Linked DNA regions of Homo sapiens. The protein of the gene in region 5 purifies or fractionates together with the protein of the main gene of each other region. This does not show direct contact. Each region holds a gene or a part of one and is shown on either strand. Other genes may lie near its edges.

Region 1 (3,500 bases), on a different chromosome or scaffold from region 5:
GTGATTCTGCTGTCTCAGCCTCCTGAGTAGCTGGGATTATAGGCGCCTGCCACCACGCCTGGCTAATTTTTTATATTTTTAGTAGAGACAGGGTTTTGCCGTGTTGGCCAGGCTGGTCTCAAACTCCTGACCTCAGGTGATCCACCCACCTCAGCCTCCCAAAGTGCTGGGATTACAGGCGTGAACCACCATGCCTGGCCTCAATGGCTATTCTTTAAACAATGTTTGTAAACCACAGCTGCACAATGCATGCCTAAGAGCGTGTGTTCTATAGCAATGAAAATACAGAAAATACACTCACTGGGAGGGCTCTTAGAGGAGGTGCTCTCCTTAATCGCCGTCTCAAACATTTCGGGCCTATAGACAAAAGAGAAAAAAAATGTGCTGATCAAACAGTAAAACTCTAACATTAAAATTTAAACAACTCAAAGATTTACAAACCAGTAACTCTGTAAAGTCTAAATTCAATTCTTAGTCATGAAGAACAGAAATCACATGCTTATCTAAAGAACCACAGCCAAAAAGACAAACCACAATTGTAAATTTAACATCCATTGCTGCCTCTCATTGGCTGCCCTTCCCCTACACTGGTTTTATTGGCATCTTCTTTCCAAGGTTAGAATGTATCCTGAAAAGAATCAGCGCCAGAATTGAGGATGCAAAGAGAAAACGCCCCACAAACGCAGCATGGAAACACAAGATGGGCTGTGAAAACAGGAGCACTTGAGGCTCTCACTCCGGAAGCAGAAGCAGAGGGCTTAGAGGCTGCCAAACCTCTGCAGACCTGGCCAAAAGCATAAAAGGTGGCCATTGGCCGGGCGCGGTGGCTCACGCCTGTAATCCCAGCACTTTGGGAGGCCGAGGCAGGCGGATCATGAGGTCAGGGGTTTGAGACTAGCCTGACCAACATGGTGAAACCCCTTCTCTACTAAAAATACAAAAATTAGCTGGGCATGGTGGCACATGCCTGTAATCCCAGCTACTTTGGAGGCTGAGGCAGGAGAATCGCTTGAACCCAGGAGGCGGAATTTGCAGTAAGCCGATATCACACACCACTGCACTCCAGTCTTGGGTACAGAGCGAGATTCTGTCTCACAAAAAAAAAAAAAAAAAAAAAAAAAAAAGTGGCCAGCTTTGCTTGAGAGCATCCCTGGGTGACTCAAAATTAAGCCTGACACCAAGCAAATGAAACCTAAAATTCATTTCAATTGATTTCAAATAATTCATGTGCATTAGCATGTACTATAAAATTCCAATTATTCTTATTTCTTTTTTTAATTTTTTTTGAGACAGAGTCTTACTCTGTCATCCAGGCTGGAGTGCAATGGCACGATCTCCTCCGCCTCCTGGGTTCAAGTGATTCTCCTGTCTCAGCCTCCCTGAGTAGCTGAGATTATAGGTGCCAGCTACCACCCCTGGCTATTTTTTTTTTTTTTTTTTGTATTTTAAGTAGAGATGGGGCTTCACCATGTTGGCCAGGCTGGTCTCGAACTCCTGACCTCAAGTGATCTGCCTGCCTTAGCCTCCCACAGTGCTGGGATTTATGGCCGCACCCGGCCCATTCCTATCTATTTCAATTATGTTAGCCTAATCCACAGATGTTCAAGCAAACAGGAGAAATTGAAAATATTCTATTAAGTTGGAGAAATAAAAGGACTTGAAAAACTAAACAGCTGCTCAGATTCCAGCAGCATCAAATAGTAACAACATAGCTGTGTAGATTTAGCAACCAAAAGTCGTTATCTCTCTAGTATGGTGGAGTCCTCCTTCCCTTCTACCAGCAGCATAAGGAAAATTTCTTCTTCTTTTTTTTTTTTTTTTTTGTTTTTGAGATGGAGTTTTGCTCTTGCTGCCCAGGCTGGAGTGCAGTGGCACGATCTTGGCTCATTGCAACCTCTGCCTGCTGGGTTCAAGTGATTCTCCTGCCTCAGTCTCCCAAGTAGCTGGGATTACAGGCACGTGCCACCACGCCCAGCTAATTTTTGTACTTTTAGTAGAGATGGGTTTCATCATGTTGGCCAGGTTGGTCTTGAACTTCTGACCTCAGGTAATCCACCTGCTTTGGCCTCCCAAAGTGCTGGGATTACAGGTGTGAGCCATCGCACCTGGCCAGAAGTTTTAAACATATACAAGAGTGCAGCTTAAAAAGCAGTTTTTCTGACTCCAGAGCTAATTCAGCCCTGCCACAAACACAAACCCACATACCCATCTCCCAGTGTCAAACACAATCAACTCATGCTAATCCCACTTCATCCAGTTTCCTTACTTTTTAATGATGAACTTAATTTTGGCTTTGTTTCTGAGTATCTTCTCCAGCCTCGGAATGCCAAAAGTCGATGGTCTTCGGAATGGCACACCCTCAGGTAAGCCTTCCACATAAAAGTCTTCCGGGAAAGACTCAAATAACGCGAACGGCACCTTCACAGCTTGTTTAAGGCCAAGAGCTTCCCCTGCAAAACAGCCGCGTACACGAAACAGAACATGGGCGAAATGACGCCATTCAATCCCGAAAAACCCACACGTTGCCAATGACAGGGATACTCCAACGCTCAGTATCCCACTCTGCTCCCTCCTACTCCCATGAAGGCACCCTGCGTGGCAGTAAGAAGGTTTCAAAATAGACTTACCACATTTCTCATTGAAGAGATTTTCAACTTTCTGTTTTAGGTCCGTGATTTTGGCATTCCAGGCCTCTGCATATAAAACATAAGAGAGTTAAATTGCAATACTTATCACAGTACTTATCAATACACATTCACAGGCAGGAGTGTTTCATCTTATTTGTGCATCTTATTTTTTTTTTGTTGAGACAGAGTTTCGCTCTTGTTACCCAGGCTGGAGGGCAATGGTGCGATCTCTGCTCACTGCAACCTCCACCTCCTGAGTTCAAGCAGTTCTCCTGCCTCAGCCTCCTGAGTAGCTGGGATTACAGGCATGCGCCACCATGCCTGGCTAATTTTGTATTTTTGGTAGACACGGGGTTTCTCCATGTTGGTCAGGCTGGTCTCGAACTCCCAACCTCAGGTGATCCGCCCACCTCGGCCTCCCAAAGTGTTGGGATTACAGGCGTGAGCCACTGCGCCTGGCCTTATTTGTGCATCTTTAAGAAGAAATAAAAAATGCATAATCTTTTACCATGATATGACTTGACAACTACTCCCATCCTGATACATAAGCAAACTGTTTTAGTACATTGCTTTTATGTTGACTACAAATAAGTGAACAAATGCTAAAATAAAGAAAAAACAAATGAAAACCCCCAAAATGCCCCCACAAATTATAGTCTCTACTACATGCGAGGTATGGTTCTAAGTACTTTAAATGACAGTATTTATAATCCTCACCATAACCTCATGAGAAAGAAAGTAATGTTATTACCATTTTGCACAAAGGGAAACTGAGGCAGGGTGTATTCGCCTGCCCAAGTGGCATCGGATTTGAACTCAGATCTGAACTCAGGCAGCCTGGCTCTACGGGCTATTCCTTTAACCTTTGATATA
Region 2 (3,500 bases), on a different chromosome or scaffold from region 5:
ATTTAGAAGTCTACCACATCTTTACATTTTAATCTAAGCCTTCCTCTAAAAATTATGACTATAATTGGCTTCATGTAATTTTGCACAGACAAAAAGTTATCTCATATTCAAAGGTTAAAAGATTTTAGGCGTTTCAGGTTTGCTATCCTAAAAAGAAAACTTAAGATTAATGCTAGAGAAAACAATGATTTAATCAACAATTTCTTACTATGCCATTTCTATATACATGCTTAAGCAGACAGGATTCCTAACCTTGTTCAGTCTAGACCAATCCGGAAGAAAACACAAATGCAATCATTCAACATAAACTTGTCGTCCTTTCATAAGTATAACTAAAAAGAACCAGGCCTCCTTGAAGGAACAGCTGATTCAAGAATAGGGACTGGGCCAGGAACAGTGCAAGATGAACCTGGAAAATATTTTGCCATAAGTGTTCAAGAAAGATAAAAAGATAGAGAATCTCCCATCCTTCATTTACAAATCAAAAAGAGAAAAAATAAGGCTGGGCATGGTGGCTCACACCTGTAATCCCACTTTCGGAGGCTGAGGCAGGCAGATCACTTGAGGTCAGGAGTTAGAGACCAGCCTGACGAATATGGTGAAACCCCATCACTACTAAAAATACTAAAATCAGCCGAGTACGGTAGCACACGCCTATAGTCCCAGCTACTCGGGAGGCTGAGTCAGGAGGACAGCCTGAAACCAGGAGGCGGAGGTTGCAGTGGGCAGAGATGGAGCCACTGCACTCCAGCCTGGACGATACAGTGAGACTCCGTCTCAAAAAAAAAGAGAGAGAGAGAAAAGATATTTAACTTTACAGTGGCAAAACCTAACTAATCAAAATTCATATCACAACTAAATGACATAATATGCCTAATGTGAAGCACTGAATGACACCCATAAAGCATCCTACAAAAAAAGTGTGCTCTTCAAAAATGTCAATGCAATAAAAAAAAACAAAAGATTAAGGAACAAGTGCAGATTAGAAGAGACTAGAGACATGATAGCTAAATGCAATGTGTAATTATAGATTCCATGTTGGACAAGGAAAAAAAATTACTGTTAAGACATTATTGAGATAATTTCCAAATTTTAAAAATGGATTATAGATTATATTGCATCAACATTTCCTGAATTTGATAACTGTACTACAGAATGGAAGAGAATTATTCTTAGGAAATGCCCACTAAACTATTTTAGAGAAAGAATTATACACATGTGGGCAAGTGGTGACAGCTGCTCTAGGTAAGGAGTATATAGGAGTTAGTGTACTATTATTCCAAGTTTTCTGTAAGTCTGAAATTTCAAGTGTTTTTAAAGATATGCACAACAGTTCATTGTTTCTTTTTTCATGTATTGGATCACTACAAAATAATCATTCCTACACATACCTCAGGAGCAAGGACAAACGTTTGCATGAATCTCCTCAAAGCCTGGTTGTTGTTAGAGAGAAGCCCCATCACCTGGACTACCACACCATCATTTAGCGTGGCATGAGCATCAACATGGCGAATCTTGGTGTGGCAGTTGGTGAAGTTTTGTGACATCACTTTCCTGTGGATTTCCTTAAAAAAATAATAATAATAATAATAATCAACTGAGAATGCCTTAAAATTTAAATAACCTCCAACTAAAAAAAACCTTCCAACACAACACAAAGAGAATGTGTATATTTAAATTACAGGATATGCAGACTGAATTTTGATGTTTCTTTGTATACTCTATTCCCAGTGACCGCGCTTGAGTTTTTTAAATAACTGTCCTGAATTAACACACTTTTCAAAGTTTAGAAAAGATGATCCCCATGCTAAAGCCAATTATCTTCCAACACACAAAAGCTTTAGAATATATCATACAAAATTAACAAATCTGACATCACATAAGTATTTCAACAAATATATTAATCAAATAGTAATAAAACACATCAACTTTTACTAAAAAGTTGAGAAACTGGATCTTTATCAGCAAATCTATTAAGTATGATCCACTTCAATTTTATGAGTTATTTTCTACCTGCTTAACAGCCTAAATAAGGCTTGAAATGCTTACTTTCTGTCCGTAGACTGCATCTGCTGGCTTTCCATTTGAATCCAATCCCCCATGGACATAAGAAGAGTTCTTTCCATAAAATCTGTAAAATGGGAAGATGATTTACTTGTCATCTTCAAGTATCTTAAGTTTATTTTTCACGTCTGATACTGGCAAACTTTTTTTTTTTTTTTTGCAACGGGGTCTCATTCTGTCACCCAGGCTGGAGTGCAGTGATGCAATCATAGCTCATTGCAGCTTCGATGTGCCGGGGCTATGATCTTTGATGTGCACATTTTTTTTTTTTTTTTTTTTGCTCTTGCTGACCAGGCTGGAGTGCAATGGCACCTCAGCTTCCCAAAGTAGCTGGAACTACAGTCACATGCCACCATGCCTGGCTGATTATTTTTATTTAAGTAGAGATAAGGTCAACTATGTTGCCCAGGCTGGTCTCGAACTCAAACTCAAGCAATTCTACCTGCCTTGGCCTCCCAAAGTGCTGGAATTGTAGGTGTGAGTCACCGCGCCTGGCCCTGGCAGAAACGTTTTCTTTTTCATCTTTGTATGCAATCATCTCTGTATCCCCTACATGCCACTTGATCAACATTTGCTGAATGGGAATGGATTTGGTTCCAGGTTTCAGTGTAGGATGATACTGTTGGGAAGGATCTTGTAGTTTCATGTCAAGATGGCCACCAATACATAAGTTCCTATTTTCACTCAGGAAGAAAATGTGCGGTAAGGCTGGAACAGCTATCTTCTTCATAGACTTCAAGTGTCCTTTTATTAATGTATCTGAGAATAAGCGTGAGCGGTTCCCCTTAAACACCTAGTTCATGCAAGTGGTTTTAGAAGTACTTTTTAACTATTTCTGCTGATGCAATTAAGAATGTCAAAGTCAATTCCTCATGGTTTTCACCCATCTATGTCCTCCTTTGATCCATTTTCATTAAAACAATATTCTACCAGGAAAGCAACACACCAAAATGCTCTAATCCAGGGATAACCACTATTAAGATTTGACATTTGTCTTCCAGATAAATACATTTTTTTTTTTAAGACAGAGTCTTGTGCTGTTGCTCAGGCTGGAGTGCCATGGCGCAATCTTAGCTCACTGCAACCTCCGCCTTTTTTTGTATTTTTAGTATAGAGAGAAGGCTTTGCCATATTGGCCAGGCTGGTCTTGAACTCCTGACCTCAAGTGATCCGCCCACCTCAGCCTCTCAAAGTGCTAGAATTACAGGCATAAGCCACCATGCCTGGCCTATGCTTTTTTCTTTTTGTTATGTTTTATGTCAGTTTTATTCTATGGGGTAGAAAGAAATTAACCAAATATAAAAATACAAAAAAAGGCTGGGCACGGTGGCTCACGCCTGTAATCCCAACACTTTGGGAGGCCAAGGTGGGCGGATCACCTGAAGTCGGAAGTTCGAGACCAGCCTGACCAACACAGGGAAACCGTCTCCACCAAA
Region 3 (3,500 bases), on a different chromosome or scaffold from region 5:
TGTGCGCTTGAGGACGGTGAGGGGGGCCACCCCATGGGACAGGACTTGCCACAGGCTTTCTGAGCAGCCCTGCCCCCCTCCCCCTGGGCTCTGGGAGTGCCTCTGCCCACCACCCCAACTCCAAAACCTCTCCTTTCCAACCTGCAGCCGCTCCTGCAGTCCGTCCTAGGACGTACTTCCTTTCTCAGGACTTTCTGTTTTACACATTTTGCAAGTTCATGAAAACTGTGCAATCCAAGCTTTTTCCTCTACAGATGAGTGGAGTGACGTTTTCTTGTCAGAAAGCATTTTTCTGAGTGATGAAATCTCCCTGGCTGAGCACCACAGCCCAGATAAATATGATGGTGGCGCACAGCCCTTGTCCCTTTGAAATTCTCACCAGAGGCTTGGAACCAGCTATGAGCCAGGGCGGGAAGTGGCTGCCTGTGCGGGTGGCTGGCTCCTTGGCTGTGCCCAGCTCCTCGGCTGTGCCCAGCAGCGCCGTCCCCAACGTGCTCCTGAAGCTGATGGCTGGGGTTGGAATCCAAGCACCTGCACTCATGGCCCACAGGGGAGGCTCCTGTCTGTGGAACGGGGACGTTCATCTCCTCTCGGGGTCGCTGTGAGCACGGGGTGGGCACAGGGGCCATGTGTGTGCTGAGTGCTGTGTTACTGTTACTAGTTTCTCTCTGGAACAGCTCTGGCCCCCGTACACCCTTGGCGTCTGGTTGTAGGGTCCAGGCCTTGTCCAGTGACCCTCGAAGGGTGCACCTGGCTCCCGGGGTCCCTCATGCTGCGCCCTGACCACACCCCAAACCGTGTCTCCTGCAGGTGCAGACAGATGAGCTATGGCTCCTGGGGTCCCTCATGCTGCGCCCTGACCGCACCCCAAACCGTGTCTCCTGCAGGTGCAGACAGATGAGCTATGGCTTCCGGGGTCCCTCATGCTGCGCCCTGACCGCACCCCAAACCGTGTTTCCTGCAGGTGCAGACAGATGAGCTACGCCCAGGACCTGCCCCAGGTCTCCGTGGTCTTCATCTTCGTCAATGAGGCGCTGTCGGTCATCCTGCGCTCCGTGCACAGCGTGGTCAACCACACGCCCTCCCAGCTCCTCAAGGAGGTCATCCTGGTGGACGACAACAGTGACAACGGTGAGTGGGCGGGGCCTCGGCACGGTGCTCGCCGGGCGGCTGCCTGTGGCTGGGTTGAGTTGGGGTTGGGTGGAGCCTCCGGGGGCAGAGCGACAGAGGACTGCACCCCATCTGTCCGCAGGGGCTCTAAACCTATGGGGGTCCCTCCTGCCTTCCAGCCTCTGTCATGGCTGCGTACGTGCTGTCCCCAGTGTGTGGCTGCCAGTGCCTCTCTCTGCCTCCATTATGCGGCCTCTCCCATGTGTCTGCATCCTCTCTTCTTCTCATGAGGACCCAGACTAGACACAGAGCTCACCCCAAATCCAGGAGGATTTCATCTCAAGATACTCAACCGGATACATCTACAAAGTCCCTGCTTCCTCTCCTCTCAGGCTCCGGGTGGAGATGAAGTTGGGGTCAGCCACCCCCTTCCACAGAGGCCAGTAGAGCTGAGCTCTCCAGAGTGCCAGTCACGCCTCCCACCTCTCTTGCCCACAGAGGCTCACACCAGAGCTTGGCTGGACAGAGCTCGCAGCTGGAGCCCAAGCCCCATGGTTCCTCAGCGCCACCCTCCTCAGCTTCAGGTCCCCTGAGGGCAGTGCTACTCACACCCTGTAGCACACAGGCTTGAAACCCCAAACAAGGATCTTGCACTGCCCCAGGCCTGTCCCCCATCTGCCCTTCCCAGGCGCAGAGCAGAGAGCCTGCAGCCGTGACACTCCCTCTGGAAATGGAGGAAAACATGGGGAGCCCCTTCCTGACCCCTCGTGGAGGCAGGAGGCTGTGCCATGGGGCTGTGGGGCAAGCTCTGGCCTGCAGCAGTGCCCTAGCCCAGCAGCACCGTCTACACTGGGGTCTGTGTGCAGAGGACTGAATGGCGTGGCTGCCCTCCTGAGCCCTGTCTCGCTGGAGAAGGTGGTGTGTGGGGAGGACCATCCAGTCCAGCTCGGCTACCTGTGTCTTGCCCTTGGCCACAGGGAGCTCCATCAGGACACCCTGCCCCCAGCATGGAAGGCCACGTTTGTGTGTCCACCCATCCATGCATGGACTTGGTTTTTTACAGCTGACTGCAGTCCTGTGTCTCCACAGCATGGGCTGCTGTCTGTCTCTCTGTCTGTCTGTCTGTCTGGTGTGTTTCCTTATTTGCTGTGTCTCCCACTGGAATGTCAGCATCATGAGGCTGGGGTCTCATCTCTCTGTGACCTCCACGCTGAACCACATGTGGTTCAGTGGGTCCTAAGAGAATGTTTACAATACACCCATCCCACACGCGGCACGCAGCATTTCCAGCCTTGGGTCTTGGTGGCCCCGCGCCTGCCAGCACCTGCCAGCGTGCTAAAGTCTTGTCTCTCCTCAGTGGAACTCAAGTTCAATCTGGACCAGTACGTCAACAAGCGGTACCCAGGCCTCGTGAAGATTGTCCGCAACAGCCGGCGGGAAGGACTGATCCGCGCGCGGCTGCAGGGCTGGAAGGCGGCCACCGCCCCAGTCGTCGGCTTCTTTGATGCCCACGTCGAGTTCAACACGGGCTGGTAAGGGCCGGAACAGGCTGGACAGCCAGTCTCAGCGGGTCCCCCTCCACCATCCCCCTCCTAAGCCGCCGTGCGGCTGCAGCCTGGCCGCTGGGTTGGCCCCGGGGCTGGGAGACTCGCCGTAGCCTTCAGGATCTGGGACTGAGAGCCACCACTGAGTCCACCTGTGCGGTTACCTCTGCGGCCTCTCTGTGTCCAGCTCCTGAATGCAAAACCACGGGAGGGCAGGCCCAGCACGCACCCAAGGACATGGCGCTTAGAAGCTCCCAGGCATGTGTATGAGGCTTGGTCTGTGCCCACCTTGCCCCAGGAGAATGTGACCCTGTCCTGACTCCAGCAGGCTCGGGTACCGTGTGTCCCCCGCGGGGTGGGAACCTCAGATCAGGTGGGGTGGGGCTAAGGTGCAGAAGTCCGGCCTCTCAGGCCCTGCTCAGTCACTGGAGATGGCCACGAGTGCCCCCGAGGCCTTAGCCTAGTGCAAGGGGCGTGGGAAGTGAGCTTCTGGGCTGAGGGGGTCACCTTGTGTATGGGGTCCTGGGGCCACCAGCACAAAGCAACCCCTTCTGGGCGGCTCGGAGCAGCAAGACTTCACCTCCTCACCGTTCTGGAGGCCCAGAGCCCGACTCCAAGGTGTGGGCAGGGCCCGACTCCAAGGTGTGGGCAGGGCCGAGTTTCCCCCAGAGGCTCCAGGCCCTTAAGGATCCCTCCCACCTCTCTCAGCTCCTGAGGGCTGCAGCCCCCACCTCCGACCCCCACGCCCTCCCTGTGTCTGTTTCTCCATCCCTGCCTTATGCAAGGACCCTTGTCATTAGAGTTGGGGCAGTCCAGGATGCCCCCAGGCAAACCCCAAAGCCAGCC
Region 4 (3,500 bases), on a different chromosome or scaffold from region 5:
TCCATAAACCCTATGACTAATTCCACTTCTTATGCCACAGAAAGTAATAGAAGTATGCAAAGATACATGTATGAAAGATGCTCAATGCTACAAGATTTCTAACAGGGAAAAAAAAAATCTAGGAATACAGGTTTTCATCAAGAGAGTCTGAATAAATACACCACAGTACCTTAAATGGAATAAGGTAGCCCTACATTACTAACAAGGAAAAATGCCCAAAGACAGTGTTCAGCCAAAAAACAAAAGCGTCCGTTACAAAATATGTAAATATAATAATTCTGATTTTCAAATTAATAAATAGACTAATTTTTGCCAGGGGCAGAACTTGGGGAGGTTCTCACTTCCTAGGCAGTTCTAGATTTTTCCAGTTTTTAGTTTCATGATGAGCACATAACATCACAAAACTTTTTTTATTTTTTTATTTTTACCTGCTGCAGAAGGCGGAGGATGGTGTTGTTTTGCAGTTGTGGCACATACTGCTGCAATTCCGGTTCCTTTTCAGGTTGTTCCCTAACCCAATTTAGAACCTATAAAATCCATTAAATTGAAAGAGAATCACACTTTCTACATAAGAGATACTAAAACATCTAAAACTCTTTTTTTTTTAATATACAAAAACATCATCCAATGCAAAGAAATACAAAATGTATCATGAAGCTACTGATACTTGTTTGAAGGTGACTGGCAGCAATGGCTAAATTAGTCATGCTGCTAATTAACCTCCAAAGGTTTGCTGAGCACATCAGATATATCTTTTCTCTTGAAATAAAGAAAAAAGACAATGAAATGTGCACTGAATTCCAACACATAGGACAAAACTTCTCTCTTAACAAATATGAATACAACCCAAAACTGCAAGAAGGCCAACTCTGTGGTAACAACCAGAACTTAAATACAAAGGCTTACCTTTGTGACTCGCTCACAGAGTTTTAATGGGTTAAATTCTACTTCAAGCCAATTGTAAAGGTCTTTCACTTCTGGGACAACATATTGTAGTACATTAAATCTGACCTACAGTAAGCAAAACAAAAGATGTAACTGCCAAAGGAAATTTTCCAACTAAAATTCTGAACTTAGTATAAATGATAGCATTGGAAATCTGGAAAATGATTTAAAAAATCATCAAGCCTCAACCTCCTCTAAATTTACCAAAAATGAATCCAAAGTACAACTATGCTGGGTCTTTTGCCCCACACTATGCACATTAACCTACCGTGAAAAGCCCCACAAGTATGTAAAAAGGAAATGAAACTCTAAAAAACACAACTACAACCAATTAAATATTCACAAAGACAACTACTGTGGCCAATAGAATATTTTATTACCAATAACAAGGAAAATACCAGTTTTACTTTTATATAAATTATCACACAAAAATTATCATGGCAGCACTATTTCTAATAGCCCCAAACTGGGGAGAATTCACATATGGTGTATTCATAAAATAAACAAAAATGCTCAAAAAAGAACAGCTACATAGAACACATGAATAAATCTCACAAACATAGCGGTGAGAAAAGAATTTCACATATTACCCCATTTATATGGACTTCAATTTTACCATGGAATATGTCATTTTTTTTAGGAACTGTTAACCCAAGGACAAAATAACTGCTGGGATAGAGCAAAGCACAGAAGTGTGTACCCATAGAGAGTGGGTGACAAAACTGAGGCAAATATTGGCAGATCGCATCCCCAAGCAAGGAGGGCACCCACACATGGGAGCACTCAGGTCTAAGGTTAACTCTAATGTAAAATGGGTACAAGGCTGAAATCCTACAACATTCTAACACTTCCTCCTTATAAGCATCCATATATCTTTACTGCAATAAGGTGTGGTATATGCATACAAATAAAATTCCCTAACTTAGAATCTGCCTTTAAGAGAAAAAAAAAAATTCCCAGCTCTAATTTCATTCCTATCAAGTTATTTTAGATTCTTCATGCAGTCCCCTTCCGAATAGGGAAATGTGAAAGGCTGCCATAATCTACTAAATTATATTTCTCACTAAAATACATGATTGGTTTACTTTCCGATTTAAAAGTCACTCTTAGGAATGTTTGAGTCTTTTCCTGAGATAATGGAATCACTCTGTCTCATAAATTTGGTTATGGAAGCCTAACGCTCAGGTATTGACCTTGGATATATGGTCAACTCAAGAAGTTGACAAATGCCTCTTGGCAGTCAGCTAATCCATTCACTTGACACTAACTGGTATCCTTCTAGAAGTCTACACTCTGTGGGCACAATGAGGACTCTAATCTAGATGCCCTAGTTGTTGGTCCAATGCTACCCATCAGTGATCACCGAATGACTTGCTCACAGAGTTTTAGTGGCTCAAATTCTACTTCCAGCCAATTGTAAATGTCTTTCGCTTCTGGGACAACATATTGCAGTATATTAAATCTAAGTCTAAGAGATCACCTTTTTTTTTTTTTTTTTTTTTTGAGATGGAGTCTTGCTCTGTCACCCAGGCTAGAGTGCAGTGGCACGATATCAGCTCACTGCAACCTATGCCTCCCGGGTTCAAGCGATTCTCCTGCCTCAGCCTCCCGATTAGCTGGGATTACACGCATGCACCACAATGCCCAGCTAATTTTTTTTTTTTTGTATTTTTAGTAGAGACGGGGTTTCACCACGATGGCCAAGCTCGTTTCAAACTCCTGACCTGAAGTGATCCACCCGCCTTGGCCTCCCAAAGTGCTAGGATTAGACGTGAGCCACCGCGCCTAGCCAAGATCACCTTTAACAAGGTGACGTGGATTATCCTTCCAGTGTGGCACGTTTCTTCAGCTTTAAAAATTAGAAGCAAATTTTTTATTAGCAAATGTTTTATTTGCTAATGAAACTTCTTTCTCAAGACACTGCTGTTGCTTTATTACATTGAGTCCTACATCGGCCCCATAAACAGAAAGTTGAACTCTGTGGGCAGTGGCAGCAGAAAAAAACATGGAGGAATACAAAGTAGAAAAAAAGCTGCTCTGCAGGAACTCTTTGCAAAAGTTAGCTACAAAGTGAATCTGCATTACTATGTCACAAAGGAAAAATGCCACTATCTAGAAAAGTTATTTGTTCTTAAATTGACTACTGCAGAAAATTTAGGCCTTTTATCTAGCTTTTATCAGAGTGAATATAGGTGTTTCCTCAGAATACATTTCAAAAATATCTGAGAGAGCCTGCCATTATCTTTTTGATTTCTTTATTGCTCTATTCATGAATTAGGGACTGTTAATGATTTAAATTCCGTTTTTGGTAAACATACAGCCAAGTACTTATCCCTCTTTCTCTTACCCCAAAGTAATCTACTGGAGGTGATTCTAATAACCAAGTCAGACTATTATGATAAGAATCCCTAGAATCTCAGCTCCCCTAGAATACAACTTCTGCCTTCAGTTTCACTTGCTAGGCACATAACAGGCACTCAACAAATTTCCACTGAATGGAAGATTCCATCAATGCGAAACACTAAAAAGATACACAAATCTGGCCGGCACGGTGG
Region 5 (3,500 bases):
CGGTGGAAAGGCTCCAAAGCAGCAGGAAGCGGGAGGCTATGGAGCCCTGGGCTGCCGGTCTATCCACCCATCACAGTACCCACCGCATGCCTTCAGTACCAGCCAGGGTCAGCACCGACATCTGATGCCCTTTCCTGCTCCCCACAGACACCCAGGGAGACGTGGCCTGAGCTTTGCCCATGCCCGCAACAGTCACCATGAGATGCTTCCAGGAAGAACAGCAACGGACGCTTCCTGATCCTTCCCTTGCAGGCCAAACACCACGGCCGCCCTGGACCTTCCTGGGACTAATCAGAGGGCCCCGCACAGCCAGTACCAGCTGGGAGGGAAACCCCCTCAGCACTTCCTCCTCCTGGCCTGAGCCTCCTTCTCCCTTCATCACAGGGTGGTCTGCAGGCCTCTATCGTCCCGAGCCCCGGAGTCCTCAAGGGTAGGATGGAGCAATTACCTCATGGGAGAACGCACCATGAGGACAAATACGGAGCTGGCTTCCAAGGACCCTGTGAGCATCTGCTCCCAAACAAGCGTATGCTGCCTGTCCCATCCACAGCACTTCTGAGACGGCCATTTGAGATCAATAGAGCAATCTCTCTTCCTCCCTCTCCCCCTGCTTCCATCTCGTCCTGCTTTACTTGTTACAGTTTTTTTTTGTTTTTGTTTTTGCTATAACTTCTGTACACTGAGCATCTGTACACCAACTATATACTGTTCGCCACAGCATCCTCAGGGGTGGCATTCTCTAAGTCACTTGCTTCACCACTTTTATGTTGTTTTTTTTTTTCACATACACATGAAAACTAATATGCAACTCTCAAAACAATTTCACCGGGGTATTTTCTAGTTCCTTGCTCTAAGCCTGGCTGTGCACCCCCACCCCAGCTTGTTTCAGGAGAAGCTCATTTCCAGAGGACACAGCCCCCCTCTTGTTTCTCCCCAGGTGCAGCCCCTCGACCTGTTCCTCCCCCAGGCACGAGCTCTGTCCTCGACCCCCTGGTGACACTAGACCTCTGGCCGAGATCCCCACACTTAATGGGCCATCCTTTCCTCACCAGAAATAATGGAGTCGTTCAGCGCCTCCTCGTCCTGATACAAAAGCAAGTCGTCTTTGAGTTCAGAATTTATGATCAGGTTCTCCTTGTTCTCCTCAGATTCCTTAGCGGCAGTTCGCTTGTTCTCCAATGCCCCGTCAAAGCTCCAAGCCTCCTCCCTCTCCTTGCCCCGCTCCACGCTGGACGTTCTCGACAGACGGACATCCAGCCGCTTCTTTGGAGACCCTTTACTTTCTCTTCCTTGAAAACTAAACCAGAAAGATGGTTCAGGTTATAGGTCACCCCCTTCACCCAGAAACCCAGCACGATTGACTTTGGAGCTTATAATGAATATCACAGAGGCAGCCCCAAAATGCATGTGACCTCTTGGTTTTTATCCTGGACACACCAGAAGGAGCATGAGGATTTGAGTTCAAGGCAAATGGCTGTTTACAACATGCTGTTTTGAAAAGCACAGAACATGCAAGTAATAAAACCTGCCAAAATACATGCAATCAATGTTCAGGGCGAGGACTTCACAAAAACTGAGAAGGACATTTTGTTTGTCTAATATTCCTCCAACCCATACTGTCTCCTATTACCTATTTTACCTCTAATCTTTCACAGTCCATGAGACACATGTGATCCAAAATAAGAGTAAGCTGCAGGCACAGGCTGCCTTACACTCTTGCCCAGTGACAACTATGAAGCCCTCAGTGTCCTGGGACAAAGTGGAACGGCCACTTTTCTCTAAGTCAGTCTCTCCTGCAAAGCTCCCACCCCACCCTGGGTCCTGAGGGGCTCACGCACAGGACTTTGTGGCCAGGTTCCCATAGTGCACATTCACTGTGCACCCCGTCCCAGAATGTGGGAACCAAGATCAGCTATGCAATCTGCAGAGCGAGGTGCAAAATGAAAATGTGACTTCCTTGTTCAGAAAGTGACTGTAGAACGGGACACCCAGCCAAGGCCCTGGGCGTGGCATGAGCTGCACAGCCTGAGGCTGGCCAGGCAGGGATTCTGGCAGCACAGGTCTCCCTCATGGGGCAGGGCCTCACCTGTCCTGGCGGTGCTTCGTGGCCAGCGCCCTGTGCAGCTCCTCAATGACGCGGCTTGGGGGAAGAGGCCGGTGGACCGTGGTGAGATGCGGAGACCCCGTGGGTGTGGAGAGCTGGCCCCGGAGGGAAGGGTCGGCACTCTTCATGCTGGAGGCTTGGAAGAGTGTGGCTTGGCCTGGGGTGTGGGAGGAAGCAGCAAGAACATAGGTCTTCAGGAGCTGGGACCAAGGGTTTTGCTGAGACTGGGGACCATGAGCGGAAAGGACGCTCCCCTGCACCTCCAGGAGGGGCCCCAACTAATGCCAAGATGCTGGACCGGGATCCCTGCTCCCAAAGCTAGAGGCCAGGGTGCATCTCTGTCCAGTTCTGCTCCATCTGTAGGGCAAACCCTGTTAGGGGCCAAGCCTTGCAGACACCAGCACCAGCATCCTCCCTGCAGGGCGCTGGGCTTAGAAAAGCCTCCTTCCTGCTTCTCTGCTATGAATTCAGCTTCCTGAAGCTGCTTCTTGTTCTTGGGAAACCCGGAAGAATCTGTGCAGCCACCCTTCAGCCTGGATGAGCACCATGGTCCGCTCTGCCCTCCCCACAGCATCTGTTCCAGCACCTTGGGCTTGCACTTCCAGCCCCCAGAACAGTAAGGAATAAATTTCTGGGCTCCAACCCTCTCCCTGTATCTCTGCCAGGAGGATCACCCCAGAAGGTGAATTGGATCACTCTCCCATCTTCCTTAGGACATGATTCGAACTCATGGCCCAGTCTCAAGGCCCCTGGGGGTGGCCCCACTCGGCTCCCTAGCTGCATCTCCACCTCACTCTCTTCACTCCAGCATGTGAAGATCTCTCCCGTCTTTGAAGGCACCACACTCCGTCCAACCTGAGTCTTTGCATGGGCTGTTCTTTCTGCCTGAAATGCTTCCCCGCTCCTCTGCTAGAATACCATTTCCTTAGAGAGGCCATGATCAGATCCCTCGTCTCCTGTCCCCTGGGACCTGAGCCTGCCCTGACACTTTTCCTCTTACTTGGAGTGAATCACGCTGCCCAGTCTGTTTCTTGCTCCTGGGCAGGCCTGTGTCCACCTTCCTTCCTACAGTTTCCCCAGGCCTGGCACTTAAAACACGGGCAATAAACACTTGTGTACATGAAATGACTTTGAAGATGATTCTAAACAGGCTTTGCTCATTCAAGTCTAAATGAGTGGGACACCCCCTCCTTCCATCAATGACAGTCTCCTGCATGTGCTCCGGGCCAGCAGGGTGTCAGGTGCCCGGAAGAGCAGAGAGCATGGGCTTTGTCTTCTGCAGATTTGGCCTCTGGTCTTGATCTGCCATTTCCCAGTATGCAAGACTCTGGGCAAGTCACTGAAGCTCTCAAAGGCTTAGCCTACTTGCCTGTAAAATGAGACCATCAGCTCCTTT
Region 6 (3,500 bases), on a different chromosome or scaffold from region 5:
GAACTGTCTATTTTGGGTGCCTCCACACTAGAGCTGCAGCCTCTAACTTCATGTGTTCCAGATGTTCCAGGGGGTCACAAATGTGTCATGAATTTCAACAGGGTTATACAAACACTTTAAAGCTTCATTCCACTTTATTTTTTAGAAAACAATATAATTCTCCCTGGAACTAGAAACAAAGACCTGCCAGTAAAGGTTTCCCAGTTGTGCCTGTTTAGATGACAGAAAAGAGAGGGAAGTTCACAGTGGGCTTGTTGATGTAGATGTGTCAGGGGAAGCTTCTTGGGGGTCTTGAAGGAGATCACTGGACGGAGAGTGGTGGGTGGGTGGGGTGGGGGTGGAGGGATCACCGCAGACAGAGGAAACTGTGTGTGGAAATGCAGGAGGCGTGGAAATGCAGGAGGCATGGAAATGCAGGGGCATGAAACTGTGGGCACGTGCAGCAGAGGGATCACCGCAGACAAAGGAAATTCTGTGTGGAAATGCAGGGGCCGTGAAGCTGCGGGCGCATGCAGCAGTCTGTATGTCGTCCCATTCATGCAGGAATAGAGGGAAACAGAAGAGACAGATGAACAGGCAAACGCTAGTGGGACCATGTGATGCCCCAAGTGACATGCTGGGATGAGTGGACCTTATCCTATCGGGCTTTAAAAGCAACTGTGGTAAAATACACTTAACATAAAATTACCACTTTAACCATTTTAAAGCGTATGATTCGGTAGCATTTAGTATATTCACACTATCTTGTTGCAGAATATTTTCACCACCCCAAAGGAAACCCATATACATCAGTAATCACTTCCCACTCCCCCTCTCCCCATCAGCCCCTGGCAACCATTAATCTGCTTTCTGTCTCTATAGACTTGCCTATTCTGGATATATCCTAGAGGGTTTTAAGTAGGGTAGTGACATGCTTATGTTTGCATTGTAGAAAAATGACTTAATGTCTAAGGAGAAGGCTAATTTGGAAGGGAGTCATACTGGTACAAGGAGGCAAATTAGGAGACTACCAAATCAGGTGAGAGGATGTGGGCTCATGGGAGGGATGGGGAGAAGGGGAAGGAGAAGAGGGTAGTAAGATGGAACCAATAAAATCAGTGATTAATCCGATATAAAGGTTAAGTGAGACTTTCTCTACCCATCCCCAACAAATCCTCCCCATTTCAGGCTTCTGACATGGGCAGATTTGCAAAGGTGGTGCTACTCACCAGGAAAGAGAAAAGAGCCACATGGGAGCTGCAAGTTTGGCAGGCAGAATATGTAGGATTGGTTTATTGTTTCTGCTTTCCAGTATAGAAAGATGCATACCCTCAAGAGAATCTGCTTGTTGTGGTTTCTGATTTACATGTAAGTTCTTTTCACTACTTTTATGCCATTCCACATTTACTAAATCTTATCTTTTAGTTTGCTTTCAGACACTAACTATAAGTAGAAATAACGTAAATAGCATTCAAATAAAAATATATTGAAAAGGTACTTGGGAACGAGAATAAAAAACAAGCCAAAGCTTGTTAGCAGACACTTCCTAACAAAGAATGCAATAAGTCACTTTCGAAAGAATGAAAAAACAGCAGAGATCAAGGCTGGGAGTTGCTTCAACAGCACTCAGGGAAACGATTCTTGAGGTCTCCCACTGTACACCTCTGGTGTAGCAAATGGTTATTGAATAGAATGAGAAAAGGAGCTTCTAGGTGCTTCAGGAGACCCACATGTAGCCATCATAATGGTACATATTCTAGAGCAGTTAAAACTTTTGGTGCTCCTTTACAACATCCCCAAGGGGCTTCCTATGTACACCATCTTAATCAGTTGCAACAATACTGTTTGTAATTTAGGACTTCCACTTCTGACTGTGACACAATAGCATGTACCAAACCAATCTTATTCCACAGAAAACAATAGAAGCTGAATTAAAAAGAAAATAAGCTGTTTAAAGGTATCAGAGAGCAACCAAGCCTTGAGAGAGGCCATGATCGTAGAGAAAAGGGAATCACAAGGAAGTGAGCCTAACATTTTGTGCTGCTTTTCCCTTTGGGAAATTCACCAATTTTTAAGCTTCTCTGACCAAGACGCCAAGTCAAAAGCGGCAGATAAGAGAATGAAAAGCTCATTAGTCTTACGGTGCTTGAGAGACCAAAAAACAAAAACAAAGAAAACCCCAAAAGAAACAACAACAACAAAAAATTGGAGTTGCAAGCCTGTCAAGGAGGGACAGCACTGGTAAGCACTGCAGGCTTTCCATCAGATCCGTGAAAGACAATGCCTTGGAAGTAATAACAAACCAGAAACAGGTTAGTCCTCACAAACCTTGAAATCAAGCACTGAATCAATCGTCTCAATCCCAAACTTTATCAAGGTGATATGCCTCTACTCTGTATGCCTTCTAGAAAAAATTAAATCCTTTTGGAAGAAAAATAACATTTTTCTTCATATATTTTTTGTACATTTTCTTCAACATTTAATAAAATTTAATAGGCATGACAAAGAACAAGAGCAATGACTAAAATTTAAGGAGAAAAAAAGATAACAGAGACCACAAATGATCCAGATATTAGAGTTACCAGGTACACATTTTAAAGTAACTGTGAACAAAATATGCAAGATGTTAGGTATAGAAAAATAATTCACAAGATAATTAGAATATATACAAGAGAATCAAATGGAAGTTCTTTAACTAAAAAGTTACTCATTCATTGTTCATTGAAATTAAGAACTCGATCGATGTTTTAGCAATAGATTAGGCATGCAGAAGAAACACTATATGAACTGGAAGTTAGGTCAGTAGAGGATATCCAGACTGAAGCATGGAGAATAAAGGTATGAAAATTCAAAAAAAAAAAAAAAGAAGAAGAAGACGACATGAAACCATGAAACATTTAACTTATGTTTAACTGGAATTTTAGGATAAAATGATAAGGAAGAAATGGGGCAAAAGAAACAAATAGTAACATTCAGAGATACTGACTGAAAAATTTCCAAAATTGACAAAAGTTACCAAGCCAGTTTTGAGAAGCTCTATGAATCCTAGATAGAATAAACACAAAGCAAACTAACCACATCATAGTACACATAATAGTATATTAGTAATAGTATATTACACTATAGTATGTGTATGTGCACACACACACACACACACACACACACACACACAGAGAGAATAGCATTTTGCTAAAAGCAAAGACAGAGAAAATCTTAAAAGCTGTCACAGAAAAGGAAACAGTACTTTCAGTACCTTCAAAGCAGCAAGAAAACTGACTATTCAACAGAAACAATGAAAGCTGGAAGACAGTGAAATAATATCTTGAAAGTTCTTAAATAAAATATCTGCCAACCTAGAACTTGTATAGAAATGAAGACCTTGTAAAGATATTTTCAAGGAAACAAAAAATTGGAAAAGGTTTTTGTCAGCAGACCTGCACTAAAAGAAGTACGAAAGACTGTTCTTCAGACAGAAGGAAAATTATCCGTAATGGAAACATGAAAATGCAGAGGAGAATGAA
Region 7 (3,500 bases), on a different chromosome or scaffold from region 5:
TGCCGTGTTGGCCAGCTTGGTCTCGAACTCCTGGCCTCGAGTGATCCGGCCGCATCAGTCTCCCAAAGTGTTGGGATTACAGGCATGAGCCACTGTACCCCACCCAGGATGTGCTTTGAAACTTGGCCTGCACCTATACAGGCATCTGCACCGTACAAATGAGCACACTGATGTCATGCAGCACCATGCTCAATCCAATGCCAAACCAAGTGTACCACGTCACACGGCCATAAATCTTAGTGTAGTTTCAGCAATTCTCACTAAACCTGAGATGCAGTAATACACTCAATTTAACAATGCAGGCTCACAATGTTTCCATGCGTCAAATTGTAGCTAGAGTGAAAACCATGAAAATAAAACTGGAATGTCTGGAAAACACAAACACATTTGACTGCTTTTAAACTCTGATTTTTTGATGGAAACAAACTCAGGACTTAAAAGCCCGACACTGCTCAAGTCAAAATATTACAAAATATACCTGAAAAGCATTTTCTACCAAATAATGAAGACGAAACTGGCTGAATCTGTCCACGGCCACCCTCCAAAGGTCCCCAGCGCTTTGATTCTATCTCATATAGCCCAGTTCCCTCCTCGACATTTAATGTGTTCAAAAATATAAAGCCAAAAGAAAATCATATTCATAAGGCAATTTTAAAAAGAATTGTTTTAAATAATCTTTTGGACTCATTAGAGGCGAAATAGTAGGTTACATGCAAATTTGGCATTTGCTATAGTATTGGGCAAATATCTGCTGTGCCACTGTAACCTCTACTTGCAAACAGCCAAATGCCAGCTCATATAGTATCTGGTCTTCCTGAACTTGTCTGTCTCAAAGCTAGTACGATCATGTAAGTTATTGCCTTACCAAATCACTAAGACATCAATATGAACACCACATGCCATTTAGACTTATTGTAAAGAGCTGAATTTTCATTTTCAAATATAGATAAGCAGTCTAGATATACTTTGAACAAATATAGCCTTATATGTCTTTTTCGTCAAATTTCTGATAGTCAAAATGTAAACGTACTATTACAAGATTAAAATTCTACAGTATTTATAATTGTGAAGGCTGTTGATCTCATGTAAAGAAACATTTAGGAACTCTGAAATATTTAAATACAAACAGAAACTAACAGATAAATGTTTATTTCCTCTGGGTACAGAGAACAGCCTGGGCAACAAAGCGAGGCCCTGTTTCTACAAGAAATGTTTTTAAATTATGTTTCTTATACAGCTTTAGGAACAGCATCATCTTTTTATGAACCAAAAAATGTTTATTAAATCTTTGTAGATTTTAACATCAAACAAAATGAGAGGTATATTTAATTTTTAGTTACTTACTTCAAATTTAGCTTGTGTCTTTTAAGAAAAAATCCTATTTGGGCTTTTTAGAGGATAAGTTAAAAGGACCACTGTCATCTTTGCATATTAAAAATTCTCAAGTGGTAAGGACTCTGTAAATATATACAACATCTATGACAAACCATCCTCAATCTAGACATTAAAAAGCACGTAACAGGCGAGGTGCAGTGGCTCATGCCTGTAACACCAGCACTTTGGGAGACCAAGGTGGGCGGATCACTTGAGGTCAGGAGTTCAAGACTAGCCTGTCCAACATGGCAAAACCCCAACTGTACAAAAAATAGAAAAAATAGCTGGGTATGGTGATGGGGGCATGTAATCCCAGCTACCTGGGACGCTGAGGTGGGAGGATCACCTGAGCCCAGGAGGTGGAGGTTGCAGTGAGCTGAGATCATGCCACTGCACTCCAACCTGGGCAACAGAGACCTTGTCTCAAAAAAAAATATAAGTAAACAGCACATAAATAGAATGATAATAAGGTGCACTCTGAACAATTGGTTGTCAAAACAATGCTTCTATAAGAATGCTTTAGGATAATTTCTCATTGTTCTGAGTCTATGGAAAGTAAGAAAAAAATGAAACTGGCCCAAGCTATGGTCCTATACATAACTTTCCTTCTAGAAAATGTAATTTCAAAAAACGTTTTCCTAAATTATATTTCACTATGTACCAGAGGATTGGGAAGAATATTACATGATCTATTCCTGCATCTTGAGCAATACAGAAAATTACCAGAAGTCCTGGAAAGCTTCTGCTTTACTTGCTTGCTGAGAGATTTAGTACCCTAAAACTGACAGATGAATTTGAATAAATAAATGTTTAGAGAATACAGCTGCCAAGAAACTGGCATTGGCCAGGAATGGTGGCTCATGTCTGTAATCCCAGCACTTTGGGAAACCAAGGCAGGAAGATTGCTTGAGCCCTGGAATGCAAGACCAGCCTGGGCAACAAGGTGAAACTCCATCTCTACAAAAAAATAAAAAAAATTAGCCAGGCGTGGTGGCATGCACCTGTAGTCCGAGCTACTCAGGAGGCTGAGGTGGGAGGATCACTTGAGCCTAGGAGGTCAAGGCTGCAGTGAACCGTCATGACATCACTGCACTCCAGCCTGGGTGACAGAGTGAGACCCTGTCTCAAAATAAAATATAGAGAAACCATCATTGATAATGGAAAAAGCCAAATATTAGAAACCCAGATCTACAATGTTTTGTTCATACCCTTCAGCTGTGTGTTCAGAAAATTAAAGCAAACAAAAACATAGCTGGCTGTTGGCAGAGAGCAATTCACCTTCATTCTTCAACTACAGACAACCTGCAGATTCTAAGAGTTTGGTAATTACCTTGTCATATACCCAGACACATTGTTAAACAAGGTGGAAAAGCAGCTATGAAATGTTAAAAGGGCTGATCAAATCCAAGTGTAACTGTAGTTTGCAGAGAATAATAAAAAACTAGCAAGCCTTATTGACATCGTATGGTTTCTCCTAGTTTGTTGGAGCCTGCAGAAGAAAATGCCCACATGGAGGTGCCTTAAGAGCACACCTCTTCCCTATAGACACATGCTGAAACGTTCCTCCTGGACAGGAACTTCTTCATCTTAAAAGCATTTCTTATCCCGTCTCTGCGCTTCTAAACACAAGGTTTTAGAAACAAATGTTTCCAGGTGATTGTGTGAAGCAGCACATACATGCATCACTGCTAAAAATACAAACATGCCCGAGGAGAATCGTAATCCTGTCTTCTTAAAATATTTTAGATGGTTTGGCTCTGTGTTCCCACCCCAATTTCACCTTGAATTGTAATATTCCCCACGTGTCAAGGGCAGGACGAGGTGGAGATAATTAAATCCCCGGGCCGTTTCCCTCATGTTGTTCTCACAACAGTGAGTTCGTTCTCAGGGGGAGATCTGATGGTTTATTAGGGGCTTCTTCCTTTGCTCAGCACTCATTCTCTCTCCTGCCACCCTGTGCAGAGAGATCTTCCGCCATGATTTTAAGCTTCCTGAGGCCTCCCCGGCGATGTGGAAATGTGAGTCAATTAAGCCTATTTCCTTTATCTATACATTACTCAGGTATGTCCTTATAACAGTGTGAAAATGGACTACTACAGTATCAGACCTCTACTTCAAGTACAACA

Evidence for each region.
Region 1: the proteins of PHACTR3 (region 5) and GTF2I purify together in Homo sapiens (affinity purification with mass spectrometry; one large-scale study listed by BioGRID and IntAct). This does not show direct contact.
Region 2: the proteins of PHACTR3 (region 5) and G3BP1 purify together in Homo sapiens (affinity purification with mass spectrometry; one large-scale study listed by BioGRID and IntAct). This does not show direct contact.
Region 3: the proteins of PHACTR3 (region 5) and GALNT9 purify together in Homo sapiens (affinity purification with mass spectrometry; one large-scale study listed by BioGRID and IntAct). This does not show direct contact.
Region 4: the proteins of PHACTR3 (region 5) and EIF3A purify together in Homo sapiens (affinity purification with mass spectrometry; one large-scale study listed by BioGRID and IntAct). This does not show direct contact.
Region 6: the proteins of PHACTR3 (region 5) and CPVL purify together in Homo sapiens (affinity purification with mass spectrometry; one large-scale study listed by BioGRID and IntAct). This does not show direct contact.
Region 7: the proteins of PHACTR3 (region 5) and NSUN2 purify together in Homo sapiens (affinity purification with mass spectrometry; one large-scale study listed by BioGRID and IntAct). This does not show direct contact.

The regions. Positions count from the first base shown.
Region 1 is NC_000007.14:74,748,218-74,751,717, reverse strand, and holds part of GTF2I (general transcription factor II-I), read right to left. Parts: intron 2,694-3,500; coding exon 2,628-2,693; intron 2,451-2,627; coding exon 2,267-2,450; intron 358-2,266; coding exon 302-357; intron 1-301. UniProt on the Homo sapiens protein: Interacts with the basal transcription machinery by coordinating the formation of a multiprotein complex at the C-FOS promoter, and linking specific signal responsive activator complexes.
Region 2 is NC_000005.10:151,788,954-151,792,453, reverse strand, and holds part of G3BP1 (ras GTPase-activating protein-binding protein 1), read right to left. Parts: intron 2,132-3,500; coding exon 2,050-2,131; intron 1,566-2,049; coding exon 1,392-1,565; intron 1-1,391. UniProt on the Homo sapiens protein: Protein involved in various processes, such as stress granule formation and innate immunity. Plays an essential role in stress granule formation.
Region 3 is NC_000012.12:132,260,090-132,263,589, reverse strand, and holds part of GALNT9 (polypeptide N-acetylgalactosaminyltransferase 9), read left to right. Parts: intron 1-964; coding exon 965-1,131; intron 1,132-2,467; coding exon 2,468-2,642; intron 2,643-3,500. UniProt on the Homo sapiens protein: Catalyzes the initial reaction in O-linked oligosaccharide biosynthesis, the transfer of an N-acetyl-D-galactosamine residue to a serine or threonine residue on the protein receptor. Does not glycosylate apomucin or SDC3.
Region 4 is NC_000010.11:119,060,318-119,063,817, forward strand, and holds part of EIF3A (eukaryotic translation initiation factor 3 subunit A), read right to left. Parts: intron 1,012-3,500; coding exon 907-1,011; intron 795-906; exon of another isoform or gene 666-794; intron 528-665; coding exon 429-527; intron 1-428. UniProt on the Homo sapiens protein: RNA-binding component of the eukaryotic translation initiation factor 3 (eIF-3) complex, which is required for several steps in the initiation of protein synthesis.
Region 5 is NC_000020.11:59,772,040-59,775,539, reverse strand, and holds part of PHACTR3 (phosphatase and actin regulator 3), read right to left. Parts: intron 2,262-3,500; coding exon 2,087-2,261; intron 1,298-2,086; coding exon 1,050-1,297; intron 1-1,049.
Region 6 is NC_000007.14:29,000,038-29,003,537, forward strand, and holds part of CPVL (probable serine carboxypeptidase CPVL isoform b precursor), read right to left. Parts: intron 1,348-3,500; exon of another isoform or gene 1,292-1,347; intron 1,019-1,291; exon of another isoform or gene 932-1,018; intron 1-931. UniProt on the Homo sapiens protein: May be involved in the digestion of phagocytosed particles in the lysosome, participation in an inflammatory protease cascade, and trimming of peptides for antigen presentation.
Region 7 is NC_000005.10:6,626,545-6,630,044, forward strand, and holds part of NSUN2 (RNA cytosine C(5)-methyltransferase NSUN2), read right to left. Parts: intron 1-3,500. UniProt on the Homo sapiens protein: RNA cytosine C(5)-methyltransferase that methylates cytosine to 5-methylcytosine (m5C) in various RNAs, such as tRNAs, mRNAs and some long non-coding RNAs (lncRNAs).